Regions from separate parts of the Homo sapiens genome. Here region 1 is linked to region 2. A link means that fine-mapping ties the variant in region 2 to the expression of a gene that starts in the linked region. Tissue or cell type: macrophages. Region 2 holds a variant in brackets; the other region holds the start of a gene. All regions are shown on one strand. Distances are between the middles of the regions.

Region 1 (8,187 bases), 83 kb after region 2:
GTGAATGCGGCTTTGTCCCATAACCATCAGACCTCCTTTCCAGAATAAAGGAGACTGCACAAAACGTGTGACATTTACCAAACCCTCATTTGAGCATCCAATAATTTAAAACAATGGCAATGGCAGGAATTATGAAGATGACATTCCGGGTAAGTTCCTGGTTGCGTCTTCCCCAGTTTCATACCTGTTTAAAGTCTAGTGTAAGTCTGGCCTTTCGTTGTTAAGCTGAAGCTAAAAAAGTATTGGATTAGGAAGGATTCTGCCTTCTGTTCAGTCTTCTAACAGTCCTTCTTTTTCTGATTAAGAAAAACTTCTGTCCCCAATTTACATCTACTTATGCTTTCAACCAGCACAGAGTATACCTGCTCTACTTCTATACTAAAGACTGACTTCTCCCTTCTTGGAGTTAAGAACCCTGAACCATGATCCATTTCTTACCATCCACCTTTGCTATCTAAGACACCCTCTCCTTCTTCCCTTGAACCGTCTGCCTCCTCTCCTATAAAGCTTCAGCAGCAGGATGAAGACTCTCTAGTATTCTTCTCATACTAATTGCGTCTCCTTGACTGGCTGTTGCCTCCCCCTTCCTTCCAGCTGGGTGCTCTGCTCTTCTTTTCGCCACCCGTTTGGTGGATTTTAAGCTTGAGAGCACAGACTACAACTGCTGCCTTCTTCACCAACTTCACAGCAGAGCCTTGCAGACAGTAAAATCCCAATAAAATGACGGCTGACTCACCCTCTGGGTGTCACCTCTGTCAGCCTCTTCCATGGGACCCTACGTTTACTTTATACTCACAGCTCCACTTACCTTCCCTAGGCCAAAGCTGCTAACTGCTTTAACCTCTACTCAGCATCTGAATATCAGACAGTGTTTTGTTTGTTTATTGGGTTTGGGTTTTTTGTTGTTTTTGTTTTGGCTGTGCTTCTGAGGAAGTCTTGCTCTTTTTCCTTTCAGTTCTATTCCATTAGGCTTTTTGCTGTGAAATTTTGAATCTGGAAACTCAAGAGAACCGACATCGCAGACTTTGATTTACATGCTGTCAATCTGCTTTGGAAGGTCATGTGGCAAATCTGCCCTTGAGGACCATTTTCAGACAGGAAAAACAGTAATTTCAGCCTGGCTGCTTTTCAGAATTCTTTGCAAACATCAGATGCTCACAATCCAACCGTTTCTCTGTGTACTAACATGTGCTTTTCAAAATGAGTGTCATATTCTTTTTAGTAATACTTTTCTGTGTGTTATGCCCTTTAAATAGTTCTCGTCTTTAACTCCATGTGGCTCTGGTTTGTTTTGTGCCATGCTATTTTGCCCCATTTTCAGGTAACTTTTCTACCTGAATTACTTAGGACCTCTGGATTTATAGCAGATTTGATAAGACATAGATGATAGCATATTTAGATAAGGATCACAGCAAACAGAACCTCACTGAAACCACCCATTCTTCCTGCTTCCACATGGCAGGGTTGCTCAAGGTTTATAAGTAATGATTTTGGCTTTAGCAGCCGGAAGGTATGAGGGCTAAGTGACCTTCACACATGTTTATCTTAAATTATAGATAATTTTAAGAGTCATGAATGGGATTACTACTTATCTATTTTATAAAAGCTAATTATTTGGGATGCCCATCAGAAGAATGGTATCCCTTATCAAACGCTTCCTTAGACGTACTGAATAAAAGCATCAGTTTAGCCGGTACCTGTTAAGAGGCTATGTCTTTCTAAGAGATGTGTTATTTGATTCTAATTATAATTAACTTTGCTTATTACTAAGTAGATAATAATTTTCTCATTTCATATTTTTTCTGAATAACAGTTTTTCTCCCCATAGAGAATATTCAGAAGATGGAATCCTTTTAACGTAGAACTCAAGATGTGCCCTGTTCTCCCTGCCCGCCTCCCATTTCCCTAAACACACACACACACACACACACACACAAACACACACATTCTCCCTTCTCTCAAGATACTTTTTTTCCAACTGAGAGTCGTTGACTAATCACAGATGAGTTAATCCTTCCACAGTTTTGAAAAAGTCTAGCAACCCTCACCTTGAAGAGAGTGAATAGCGTGGCTAATCCATCTAAGAACAATGCACGAAAACGAAAAACGGAGAATCCTGCCCGGCAGTTAATTTGTTACTCATACTTGTTGAACTTAAGATTTGGAGCTAAATAAGTGCAGATGAGAGCAAAGACCCATCTTTTAAATATTTAAGCTTTTAGGCAAACCTGGGCAGGCAATATCACATTTATCAGTGCGAATTCTCCAATGCTCTCTAAAACTTTATTTCAATGATCTCACCTCCTGTAAGGAATTAATTCCCCCTTAGCTTGACCACAGGATCAATATCTTATCTTAAGAAGTGTTTAGGTTTTCTAAAAAAAGACCAGACACTGAAGACTTACATAAACATCAAAGCATTCTTTTTTTAATTCCTCGATATGGAGAAATTCATAGGCCGAAAATTAGGTAAATAGAGAGGTAATTACCAATGCCTGTTTCCTTGACAACTCCCCTCCCCCACCCCTCCTGTGATAGGGAAAAACCAAAATGAAAGTGAGGAGGGGTAGCCACAAGCCATGCTGGATTTTAGCAAACCAAAGCAAGAAGCAGAGCAGAAAGCTGCAAACTAGACACAAAATACAAATAAATCAATGTATATCGGGGCTGCATATTGTGTAGTATTTTTGTGGTTGCCATAGAAACGTCAGCGACGGAAGAACATGTTGCATGACACAAAAGAGAGCAATATGTAATAGGAACATTCCCCCCACCACCACCCCCCGCCCAGCTTCGTCTATAGCAGAGAAAATGCTTTAGCCCCGGGAGGGGGCTGGGTGGGTGGGTAAATGAAGCCAGGAACAGCAGCTTGAAATCACAGCCCAGAAAGGGACGCTCACCCGGCCCAGCACAAAGCGAGGGTCCTTTTGTACCAGCAGAGCCTCTCTTCGCCTCCCTCCAGGCGCCCCCTGCACCTTTCCCCCGCCCGCCTTGCACTCCCCCCCCGCCCCCGGAGCCTACCCCTTCCAGAGGTCCTAAGGAAATCCAGCCCAGGAGAGAAAAATATGCTGGGAAGAGGAATGCAAACATCAGCCACACCCAGCGGGGAAGGTGCCTGCGAACGGCACCAGGACCACATACCTCCTTCCTGGCAGCCTTTGGCACATGGACTTAGAAACCAGAAGCTGAGATGGAGCCGGCTGGGTTCAGAAATTGCCACTAGTTTATAAGAGCTGTAAGTCAGCCAACACTGGAAAGAAAAAGCGAGACTCCACCCATGGGGTGGACCCTTCAGGAAGAAAAAAAAAAAAAAAGTGGTCCTCAGCTGACGTCTCTCCCCACCCATGTCACTTCCTTTTAAAGCTACAAGTTAGCAGTTGCCGAGAGGGAAGAGCGAGCTGGTGTAATATGAGTCACTCCCTTCCCCTTCCAATTAGTGTAAGGCAGTGCTTCAGTTGGCTTCACGTTTGAAATCGCTTTTGAAATCTGGCTCGGGAAGCTGCCAGGATAAAAAAAAAATGAAAGCCCCCTGGAAGTGGCCTTGCTTTCTCTCCCCTTTCTCCCAAATCCTGTTGCATCCCTGCGCCCTAACGGCTCCTCTAACCTCAACCCAGACTCCGGCTCCGTCTGTGTTGCAACCTGGAAATTGTCCTCAGTTGGCTCATTTTTAATTCAGCAAGCGTAGGATCAATATGCCCACCCTCAAAACTCTCCCCTCACCTCTCCTCGGTCCGCTGTGCTGGAAGGAGATTGCGTTGCACTCAGAAGAGTCCAAATCATCTTAAACAAAATAAGCCTCAGCACTCAAGAGATTGAGATGTTATGAAGTGGGATGAAAGAAGCTTGGAGGTCGATTGATGTATTTTCTGTTTTCAAACCTTAGCACCATGGTTGATTACCACTGCACAGGCGTGCACACACGTACTGTCGCATGCTCACATGCACGTGGCATTTACACAGGTGTATCAGAGAGGGTCTGGGCAGACCTTTATAGTAAAAGTGTCTTCACAATTTTTAAAAAGGGTGGGCTGTTGAAAGTCCAGAAATGCCAGGATCTAGAAAATTATTTCAATTTCAAAATACTGAGGTGTATTCCTTTCAAATGTCCACTATTACAGCCATTGTCAAAATAATATTTAACTATTTACTTGACTCCTGGGTTAACCTTGTTCTTTAGATGTTTATAATCTATAAAGGAAAAATACATGTGCTCACAAATAGCCCAAGCACATTGCAGAATTACTAACAGCTATGCAAGTGTCAAAACCAGTGTGTCATGAAGACAGAATAGAAAGTGCTTTTTTGATTGCGATGGGGGAAGGCATTGATCATTCAGGAAACAGGGTTTGGAGTGGGTCCTATGGGAGGTGGCATTTTTCTTGTCTGTGATGAGAGACGGGGAGAGTGAAGCAGAATGTGGTGGAAGAGAAAGGATATGTGAGGCAAACAAAAAAAGGATCAGAACAGAAACCCATTTGTAGCAATAACTTGTTTTAATATCCATGTGAAAATAAATTTGACCACAGAGTAATGCTTATAAAAGATTTTTATAAAAAGTTCCTTGTAGTCATCATCTCTCGTAACTTTTCGAACTATGTTTTACGACCCATGTGCTTCTAGATTTGGTGGAAACTTGAGTTTTTCAAAGTGTTTTTCAAGTAGAGTTACACTGTTTTTCACGGTTGAATTCTGAATGGTAATTTATTTCAAAACCTACAAATTGCATAAATTCCTGATAATGTTATAAGTACAGTCAGTGATTTCAGTGGAAATGATAGGAAATTTAAAATTTGGACAATTGTAACTTTTATCCTGATCTCAGTACTTTAACATCCTCATTCCATTATTACATTACAATTATTATTATACTTATTATTGCTAACACTTTGCCTGTCTAGACAATGTTGCTCAGTCCCAGTTATCTCAGATATAGCTGAGAAATATGGGAGAAAAAGTTACTATTTCTAAAAATTTAACATAGAAATTCAAAATTCATGGATTAAATCCTATGCTTTTTTTTTTGAGACAGAGTCTTGCTCTGTTGCCCAGGCTGGAGTGCAATGATACGATCTCAGCTCACTGCAACCTCCACCTCCTGTGTTCAAGCAATTCTCGTGCTGCAGCCTCCCAAATAGCTGGGATTACAGACATACACTACCACACCCAGCTGATTTTTTGTGTTTTTGGTTGAGACGAAGTTTCACCATGTTGCCCAGGCTGGTCTCTAACTCCTGACCTCAGGTGATCCACCTCCACCTCCCAAAGTGCTGTGATTACAGGCAGGGAGTCACCACGCCCAGCCCTATGCACATTATTGAGTGCCATTTAGAGTCTATCCTTATGTGCCCTTATTTAGCTATTTCTATCTATACAAGGAATTGTGAATATTTCCAGGTCACAACGTAACAACTCAGTTCAATGTATGTTTATTGAGCATCCATGTTAGTTGCTGAAGATACAAAAACACAGATAAGACATGGAAATGGCCCCAAAGTGCTCAAAGTCTTAGAAGGGAAAGCGAAATGTAAACAGTTAAGACACAATGGAGGCAATGATTGACATTTGTACAAGATTCAGAGGTGGTTCGAGAATGGGAAAAGGAGAGGGAGGATACATCTACATAGTTTCTTAGCTAACAGTGGACTCTAAAAGGGGTGGAGGTGGACAGTATACTCATCCGTGAGATGGTAAGAAATAAATACTGGCAGTTGGAGAGAGGAGAAAAAAATTGAAAAGGAGACACAAATCATAAATTGGTAACCTAAAAAAGATATATAAGTGGTCCGTAAACAAAGAGGCAACCTTACATAAAAATACAAGTCACAAAGTAAGGATGTTATTTCTTTGCCTAGTCACTTGTCCAACACTCAAAAAGCTAGAACGTGCAGTGCAGAGAATGCAATGCCATGGGTTCTCTCTTCTGCTGGTGATGGCAAATTGATACAATCTCTGGAATTCAATTAAAGAAGATTTTTCATGAGCCTTTAAAATGTTCATACCCCTTAATCCAATAATTCGACTCAGAATAATTTATACCAAGGACATAAGCAGAGATAAATTCAAAGATTTGGGAACATGTATATTCATCAGAGCCATTTATAATAGTAAAGTCTGGAAACCATCTGAGTGTTTGAAGTAGCAGGTTAGCTATGGAAATGATGTAATCTTCATATGATGAAACACTCTACAAAAAATTAAAATTCTGTGTTTGAAAGACCTAGGGAAATTCATGGTATCTTAAGTGTAAAGGGAACTAAGCTTTATATAAATTATGGTCCCGTTTTCGTGATTCTATAAATATATATTACAGTGTGTGTAGTGGGTTGAATAAGTGTCCCCCAGTGTCCCCCACAAATTCATGTTCACCCAGAACCTCACAATATGAATTTGTTTAGAAACAGAGTCTTTGCAGATGTTAATCAGCTGAGACGAAGTCATTCTGGATTAGGATGGGCTATAGACCCAATACCTGGTGTCCTTATAAAAAGAGGAGAGGATGCAGAAAGACACACACATAGAATAAGGCCATGTGATGGCGGAGGTAGAGATGGGAATGATGTGTCTATGAATCAAAGATTGCTGGCAAACACCAGAAACCAGGAGAGACGCATGGAACAGACTCTCTGAGAGCCTCCAGAAGGACCCAACCCTGCTGATGCCTTAATTTTAGATTCCTGGCCTCGTGAACTGTAAGAGAATAAATTTCTGTTGTTTTAAGTCACACAGTTTGTGCTAATTTGTGATGGCAGCTCTGGGAAACTTAATGCAGTGTGATGAAGATCATGAAACTGTTAATAATCATTACTTCTGGAGAGTGAGATTGAGGATGATTTTTATTTGCTTCTTTATATGTGATTGCACTTTGGAGAACTTTCTACAATGGATGAACACGTGTGACTTTTACAGTAACAAGATTAGGACTAAAAACCAAATAACCTAGGTTTCTGAAACTGTTTCTGCAATTTAGAACAGACATAAACAATAATCAGTGATGCTTACGACACGGTGAGTCCTGAGGAGTAACATATTTTCAAAGCCCAGTGAGAGGTAGAATTCTGCATATCTCAGAAACTTCTTTAAACCTAAGTTTTGGTACTTAAAATGATAACTATCACTTATCTGAAATGTGAACTTACACACTATGTATTAACTGTTGTGCTAGATAGTGGAGTCACTGATGGCATTGTTACAAATTGCCCATTCTGTTAGCACAATGTTATTACACATTAACAGTATTTTTGCTTTATTTCCACTTGCCTCGTGTTGTGAACATTGATACAACATCCACACAAACCTATACACTGAGTTTAAAAATGTTCTCAAGTTATACAATATGAAGATATAGATTTGCAACTATGATGACCTCATTATGTGCTACATTGGAAATTGTGGCTGCTTAGAGGAGACAAAGGAAAATTGTAAATGCTAAAGTTAATTTGATATTTGGGGTCTATAATCTTATATTTAATAGTTATATATGTCAATAAAAACCCAATAAAGTTCTTAAAATGTTGTATGTTTTTATGACCAACAAACTCTTACGGCTCTCGTTATTATTACAATCATTTCAAGTACGATCAAAGAGGTGTAACATTAATATCATTGGGGAAAGTGCAGAGGAACTAAGAAAAATTTCCTCCTTTGCCAACAATGGTTATGACCTAAGTTATTCCCATAAGATGGATGTATTTACAGAACCTTCGTTTCTATTGATTAGCTCTCAATGAATCTTAACACTGAATTTTATGCTAAAAATTGTTCTTGATATTTACTTGGCTTTTTTCTCTTATTGCCATCTTCAGGTCAATTCAGCCCGCCTGAGATGGCCCCAGAAAGCCACCCACTACCCTGTCCTGAATTCAGGCAATGAGCAACTTGAAATCATACGATACAGAAGCAAATCTACCACAACAGAAGGAACTGAATTCAAATCAATTAACGCATAACTGATTGGCAACAAATTGAAAAAGATACCAGTTTCACAACCTGATTTTAAAAGACAAGGTAATACGATGCCAATACTGAAACCTAGCACTTGTATTCTTCATAGCCAAGTGACAATAGAGCACATTAGTTCAAGTGGTATGAAACTTGGGATGATTTTTACTGTCATTGCATGGTATGTGATTTTTTTTTTTTTTTTTTTTTTTTTTGAGACGGAGTCTCGCTGTCGCCCAGGCTGGAGTG
Region 2 (8,187 bases):
AATGGATAAATTAAGATGCTAAAATATACACAATTACCAAAATAATTTTTACAGGCAGAAATGTGGAAGGGACTCTATCCCGGCACTGTTTTTTAAAAAACATTGTCTTTACATGGGACATTGATTGCTTCCATATCTCAGCCTAGGACGCCTTAGGATATTTAATTTTGTCTCTCTTCTAGTAGAAAACCAACTTTTTCAGTAGAGCAGCTTTTAATTATTAAGGATTATGTATAAATTGCACATTTTTCTATCAGACTTGTGATAAATTAGGTCACCAGATAATTCTGAGATCCTCTCCTTACATCACTTGTTTCAAGTGAAACTTCCCAGTGTTTCCAACAACGTAATATTCTGTCCCTATTAAGATGACCAGGTAAAATACAAGGTACCCCATTACATTTGAATTTCAGATAAATTACACTTTATTTTTTAGCATAAGTATGTCCCACGCAATACTAAACGACATTATGAGGCATGCAATATCTGGGACACATACTAAAAAATCATGTGTATATGAAATTTAAATTTAGCTGGGTGTGCTGAATTTTTATTTGTTAAATCTGGCGATTCCAGTCCTTGTTAACCCAGCAGTCACCATGGTAACAAGCACGGCCGTGCCTCTGGGAGGGCAGCTTGGGGAGGAACTGAACAGGGCACCTCTGGGTTGAGCAGCCAGCGGCCGTCGAATGGGGCTTCCGTAAACATCATTCCCTAGAATCCCGAGAGCCACCTGGTGAGATCGGCATCGCTATCTCATTTCACCAATGGCAAATGGAAGAGAGATGGCTTTCCCAAGGTCATGCCCATTCTGGGGGCAGAATTCCTGTACCAGCTGCTGCTGACCCTGATGCTGAGGGCTCAGTCCTCTTGCTTTGCTGGCCTCGTGCACGTGCAGAACACGTGTTTCTTAGAATCTTAGTAATTTTGAAGTAATAAATCTGTGCCTATTTTATATCCCCATCTTTAAAACATCCCTGATAAATCATTTTGCCAGGGTTTCATCTACCAGGTGAGCTTTATCTAATCAAGCTATGAGGCTGGTGAGTGGGCATGCAACAGTGTTGCTAAACCCGGATTGTCTGGCAGCCCTGGGAAGACCAAGGCCAGGAATTAGGAGGCTTTCCCATCTGCGGACTGTCCTGCCTCCTCCCCATCTGGCTCTTGTGGTGAAGTCTAATGAGTGTGCCAAGACCAGCAGGGTGCCCTGAGGTCACAGCTCAGGTGATGGGTGGGGTCCAGGGAAGGGGCACGAACAGGATGGAGGAGCAGGGAAGAGGAGGAAGGCATTGAGGAATCGGGGTGAAGAGAGAACCCACATGTATTGTACACACACTGTAGCCACACAGTGAGTGAGGCTCGTCACATGCGGAATTCACTTACTTACAACCTTAGTTGCCCGTCAGGACTATCCCTCCTCTGCACAGATGAAGAAGCTGAGGCTCTGAAAGTCTTAGCAACTTGCCCCAGGCCACTGAGACGGTACGGACTTCTGTCTGTGCTGTACACTTGCACACGGCAGATCCAGGCCAGCTGCACATCCGTGGGCTCCTCCATCAGTCTCTGGCCCCCTCTTCCACCTCACTGTCTCCACCTGCCCCTTCCTCACCCACCGCCCTCCTAACCCCTCTCTCCTCCACCCAAAAAAGGGCTGAATGCCAACCTGAAATGTGGTTCTCTGAGTATTTGTTTTCATTTTCAAGATAGCACTGAGTTTTGTGCAGGCCCAGGCTCTGTTCTGTCTTATCAGTTCTGAAATGCTCCGTTGGTTCACATTTTAACATGCTGAAATCAGGGTGTGTCTCACTATTGATGGCATCCCTTAGTTTAATTGGAGCATTTCTTTTCCTTTCTTAGAGATGCATAATAAATATGCACCTTACGGTCAATGACTAGAGTCTATGAAATACAGGAATTAAAACGAAACAGGGTGACCTTAGGAAGCTGATGTCATTTAGATGAGCTGTATCTGAAGTGCAGCCATGTATGTGGGAAGTGCCAGGGTCAGGGGAAGGGAGGGATGAATAAGGAACACGGGATTTTTATGGCAGTGACGCTCTGCTGCAGGACATTGTCTTCATGGGCACATGACATTATGCATTAGTCAAAATAATGTATCATTATCAACATTGGTTCATCAATTGTAACAAATGTACCAGACTAATGGAAAAGCGAGTGAGCAAGTGAGAGAGAGAGAGACTGAATGTAAGAGAGTATATGGAAACTATCTGTACTTCCTTCACAAATTTTCTGTAAACTTAAAAGTGCTCTTAAAAAATAGCCCATTAATTTTTTAAAAGGCAGAGTGATTTGATCCTTTTATATTTCTCCCATTAAAAAAGGTTAAAGAAAATACATAAAATACTATTTTATAGTTCTGATTCTCCCTCTGCCTCCCAACTGGTTTTAGCTATCTGTGGCCAATCAGCAGAGAGCTCATGGGAAGCTTTACCCAGAAGAAACCAAGGGAAAAAAAAAAAAAAAAAGATCCTTAGACCTTAAGATATTGATCAAAGGAGTAGAAAGATTCTCATTCCACCTTAACTTCTGAATATTCCAAATCTCACTCTCTAATCATGCCAATGGGAAAGAAAGACAAGCAATATGCCAATATAGGTCTGAAGGAAAAAGGAACAATTTATATATGATCTAAAATACCCATCTCTAGAATAAAGACAAGCAGAAATAAACTAATCATTAAAAAGTCAATTTTGTGGTTCTTGGGTAGTAATTAGATGTATTTATCCAATAGACTGTAATCTAAGGTTATAACAATAGTCAGACTTTGTTCTTTGTTCCCAATAAATATATCCAGATGTCCAGAGGAAAAAAGTTTTTTCCAGTCTGGATTTCCCATGAAGACAGACTGGTTAGACCCATGCTAATCTTGGTTCAAATCTCCTCAGCACCCCTGCTTTGGTTTTTTAACTCCTTAAGAACACAATATGGAGAAGGTTAATCATTTGATTCCAAATATAATAACATTCATTAAGTGCTTACTGTGGGCCACACCTAGTGACAAATGGTTTACAAACATTATCTATGTAACAACGCAGTTAGCATACACTTGACAGACGAGAACACCAAAATGTAGAGGAGTTAACATAAATACCCAGGATCACAAAGCCAGCAGATATCACACCCAGACTCAGACCAGGCCTGTGTCACTTCACATCCCACACTCTAACCCACTGTGCTGTGCTGCAAATTAGGAATAAGAAGTATGGAAGAGTTAAAATGTGGTACTTAGGAACTGAATGAAACCAGGAAAATAATACCATTGCCATATAAATTCAGTTGGAGAGACGTCATTCTGAAAGCTGGCTCAGACCAAGGGGGCCAATCCCACCTGCCCCACCATGGCCCTAAAATTAGAATATCAAGGGGAACCAAGTATCTTAGATACAAGGAGGGACACTGTCCACTTCCAGCAGCTCTGAAAGTGGGTGAAACTAGAGCCAGACAGGACTAAAGATGTATACATATTCTTTCTACCTGTCATAGTCCTGAAGATGTTGATTAATTAGATTAAAAGTACAAGGTTAAATTGCAGCTGTTTGACTTTTGTGGACTGACATTTAAAATATCAGAAACAAAGATTGTGTCAGATACAGATTACATGAGTTGGGAGACTGTCTCTACACCAATCCATTCCATAAGGATGTAGGTGCAGAAGAGAGTTACACATAGCATGGACAAAACTAAACTGCAAGGAGGCCATTGTTGCCTCAACAAGCCAAGGCTGGTTTGATTTCCTGACTACAGTCTTGAACAAGTGATTTAACTGTGTTTCTTTCAATGGTGCTTTCAATTCTCAATTCACCTTCCTCTCCCCTGGTTAGGACCAGAGCTGGGCAGTGTGTAGGGAGGTGTAACTGTTCTTGGATTTACAAGGATTGTCCTATTTTGTGCATTCCTTTTTTTTTTTTTTTGTCTCATGTTTCCATGGTGCCTTTCTTCTCTCTTCCTTCTCGCCTTCTTTTGCAATAAACATTTTTTCCCTCTACTAGTTTAGAAGTTATA[CTT/C]TTTTTTTTTTTTTTTTTTTTTTTGGAGACAGAGACTTGCTCTGTTGCCCAGGCTGGAGTGCAGTGGCACAATCTCAGCTCACTGCAACCTCTGCCTCCCAGGTTTAAGCGATTCTCCTGCCTCAGCCTCCTGAATAGCTGGGATTACAGGTGCCTGCCACCACACGCAGCTAATTTTTGTATTTTTAGTAGAAACGGGGTTCCCCCATGTTGGCCAGTCTGGTCTCAAACTCCTGACCTCAGGTGATCTGCCCACTTCAGGCTCCCAAAGTGCTGGGATTACAGGGGTGAGCCACTGCACCTGGCTGGAAGTCATATATTTTTTAAATATCTCAATTTATCCTTCCTAGTGCCTTTTATGTTATTCTGGCCTAATATTCTAATATTGTCCTTCTAATTTAACTCCACAAGACTTTATCATTGTTTATACAGTGTTCATTTACATCTATCCACGTATCACCTTTTTTTCTCTTCTTTCATTCTTGTATCTCAGGTCATCTGAGATCTTTTTCCTTTTCCTGAAAATTTATCTTTAGCATTTTCTTTAGTGAGGATATGATGGTGAAAAACACAATTATTGTTTATCTGAAAATGTGTTTATTTTGCCATTATTCTTGGAAGTTATTTTTGCTAAGTGTAGAGTTCTAGACTAGAACTTCTTTTTCTTTCAGCACACATTAAAGATACGATTGCATCATCTTCTGGCTTCTGCTGCAGCTGGGAAGAAGTTAGACTTTAGGGTGTCGCTCTTTGGAAGGTGGTCTGTCACTCTTTGGAAGGTGTCTTTTCTCTTCTGGTGACATTTAATGTCTTGTATATTTTGGTGTTCCACAATTTCACTATGATGCATCTACGTGTGACTGGATTTTTCTTTTATTTTCCGTGGGTTTCACTGGGCTTCTTGAATCTTTGGATTAGTATTATTTGTCAGTTCTAGAAAATTCTGAGCCATTGTCTCTTCAAATACTGTCTCTTTCTTCCCTCCATCCCCATCTTCTGGAAGGACATACTTAATCTCTTTCCCATGTTTGTTAAAAAGTATTTTTTCATGTCTGTATCTCTGCTGCATTCTGGATATTTCCTTCTGATGTGTCTTCCAGTTCACTAACAGTCTTTCCAGCTGTGTTTAAGCTGACATGAAACCCATACGGTGAGCTTTTCAATCCAGTAGTTTCTTATTTCTACAGGTTCTTTTGATTCATTTTAAAACCTCCTAGGTTAATTTTTACAGTTTATTGTTTCTGACATGTGCCACATGCTCAGTCCAAGACTATCTGAAGCTAACATCATGGTTGGAGATTTCCAGAGCATCCGGGGGATCTGAATACACGCTGCAAATTTGCAAGCAGGCCGCTCTGTGGTCACCACTTTTCAGAGACTTTTATTATCCTCAGCTCAACTCAGACCAATACAAACTTCCGAGTTGGCCACTAGACCTGTGGGGTGATCAACCTTCCTTTTGGTTCATCTTTACATTGAGGTTACAGCCTTTCACAGTTCCAGTTTTATGGAGGAAGAATCCCTGTTAGACTCCAAGGCAGACTCTGGGCTTTGACGTCTGTGTTGACACTACTGGAATGCTGACAATCAGATTTTCTTGGCTTCGTATATATCCTCAGCAACGCTGTGGTGCCCTGACTATCTGCACTATCTTCCCTTAGATTTTGCCTGGTATGTCCTTACTATCTTGACAGCTCTTCGATACTTTTAAGATTTAAAAATATATTTTATCCAATATTTTTAGAAGAAGAGTTGGGCAAAATAACCTAAGCTGCCATATCATTGAAAATGGAAGTCAGTTCTGCTGAAGGTACTTTACTTTTCTAAGCCATAATTTTCCTGTATGTAAAAGAAGGTTACACGCAATCACTGTCTACAGCTATGCTGTCCACTCCATTAGCCACCAGCCACATGAGGCTGCTGAACATGTGAAATGTGACTAGTCCAAACTGAGATAAGCTGTAGGCATAAAATACACACTGGGTTTTGAAGATTTCCAACAAAAAAAGAAAATGCCAAATATCTCATTAATTTTTACAATGGATACATTTTGAACTGGTAATATTTTGAATACATTATGTTAATCAGATATATTAAAATTAATTTCACCTATCTCTTAATTTGGCTACCAGAAAATTTAAAATTACATGTGCAGTTCTCATTGTAATTTGGACGCACGACACTAATCTAAAAGATAAAGCTTCTTGGCAATGTTATAATGATGCTTTATGAGCTGCTCCTGTCTCCTCTGTCAGCCAAACCTGGTCCCCATTCCTTTCCAGAGTAGTGTGTGTGTGTGTTTGTGTGTGTGTGTGTGTGTGTGTTAGAATATGCGCATGTATGTGTGTATGTGTGTGTGTGCATGTAAGTATATGTGTGTGTCTGTGTGTCTATGTGTGTATGTGTATGTGTGCATGTGTGTATGTGTATGTGTGTATATATGTGTATGTATGTATGTGTGTCTATGTATGTGTACATGTGTGTATGTGTATGTGTGTATGTGTATGTATGTATGTGTATGTGTGTATAGATGCGTAGGTATGTATGTATGTATTGTGTGTGCGTATGTATGTGTATGTGCATATGTGTGTGTGTATTTGCATGTCCTTGCATGTGTCCTCGACAAGGCTGTTTCTTGACAGAGGAAACTTATTTTGTTCATCTTTAAGTTATCAGACTTGGTGCCTGTCACATTGCAGGAGCTCCTTAAACACTTCAGAAATTAATGAATAAAATGGTTTCCATGGATGATCTGATACACTTAGCTTTTAAAGAGGAACAACTTCCTTACTTCTAGTTTCCCTTAGAAAGGATCCTTCCTTAGATAAATTCCTGCCTTCCTGCACCTTACTTGCCCCGGGAGAAGCTTTGGCCACCACCTTCCAAGTCCTTGCTTAATTTCTCAAATTGTTTAGAAATATAACTGTGAAGAATACTATTTATTGAGGCCTTTCTGGGGATCTCAACATTAAGTACAAAATTAAATATATTCTTTTCTCCAAAAGAATAAAATACAACTTAATTTAACCACACCAGAAACATAATTCAGAATTTGAAGCAAATTTCTCATTTAACCGAAAACCAAGATGAAGGATAATTCAAGACAAGAAACTGGCACCTATTTTCAGGGTAAGAGTCCAGCTTTCCCTTTCCAGTGGCAGTCTTCCCAAAATAAAAGAAAAAAAGTAATTATTCAGAGAAGACAAGCACTGCAGGACAACCATTGGGCGGGTTATAAACACCTTTCATTATATGGCATGACCTGCAAGGAATGCTTCCATCATTCCAAGATTTAAAGCCACCTAGAAATACAGCAACTTCATGTTCATCAGAATCAGAAGTTTGTACAGTAGCCAGAGATCTTTAAAAGCTCAAAGCGCTTCCTAGCGCACACTTCATGTAACAGTTCACTCAGCAAGCCCATGATGCCTGTAGTATAAAAGCAAATGTTGCAGAACTTCATCATGTGATCAAAGCTGCAGAAGGAGAAAGAGACCTTGCATCAGGCTGTGTCATGCCTCAGTCACCTTTGACTACTCCGAAGAGGAAAGAACTCTAAGAAGGCCACCCTCTGTCTCTCAGATCCAAAACTACACATGCAGAGAACCTGGAGACATTTAGGGAGGCATGCCACACCCTCGGGGCTCGTCACACAGGCATGGCTCTACACTGCTCTCTGGGGCAGGTGTCAGGGCCAGCAGGCAGGCTGATTGTCTAGCGTTGGCATTAGGGCAAGTCTTGAATGTGAATGTTCTCAAGGTCCGCTCCGATCCTATCTTTTCCCAAAGCTTCCTGACATTGATCAGGCTCTCCCCACCGTGTGCAGAGGCAGCTCACACCCACAAGGCTCTGTGATTCACGTGCTGGATATTCTAGAGCCCCTGAAGGTGCCAGGACTTTAGGATTTGCATAACTTAATGAGGCTTAATGACCCACCATCCCAAGACAGAAATATAACCCTGACCTCTTTCTAGAATGGTGTGGTTCGCCATCTTAAGAGCACTGTCTTTCTAGGAGAAAAGAAATGGGACCTAGTAAGTTAAGGCATCAGACACTGAGTGGTGACACTTTACCAAAGAACAGCAATGTTAAGAAAAAGCCAGGAACTGGAGAGGCTAGGGGCTGGAGGGAAATCTGCAGAAAAGGTGTCCTGGAAACTATG

The links. PIP is the estimated chance that this variant, and not a neighbour inherited with it, causes the effect.
Region 1: AGPAT4 starts here. The variant in region 2 is fine-mapped to the expression of AGPAT4 in macrophages (Nedelec 2016, PIP 0.95).

What each region holds. Positions count from the first base shown.
Region 1 is chr6:161,270,797-161,278,983 of GRCh38, forward strand. It overlaps AGPAT4 (1-acylglycerol-3-phosphate O-acyltransferase 4), which reads right to left and starts at 3,265. Exons shown (of 9, transcript NM_020133.3): 1 at 3,142-3,265.
Region 2 is chr6:161,188,119-161,196,305 of GRCh38, forward strand. All of the region lies in intron 2 of AGPAT4 (1-acylglycerol-3-phosphate O-acyltransferase 4), which reads right to left. Among named protein-coding and RNA genes, the nearest start is that of AGPAT4-IT1, 30 kb to the left of the region's middle. The variant CTT/C (reference allele first, on the strand shown) is at 4,024.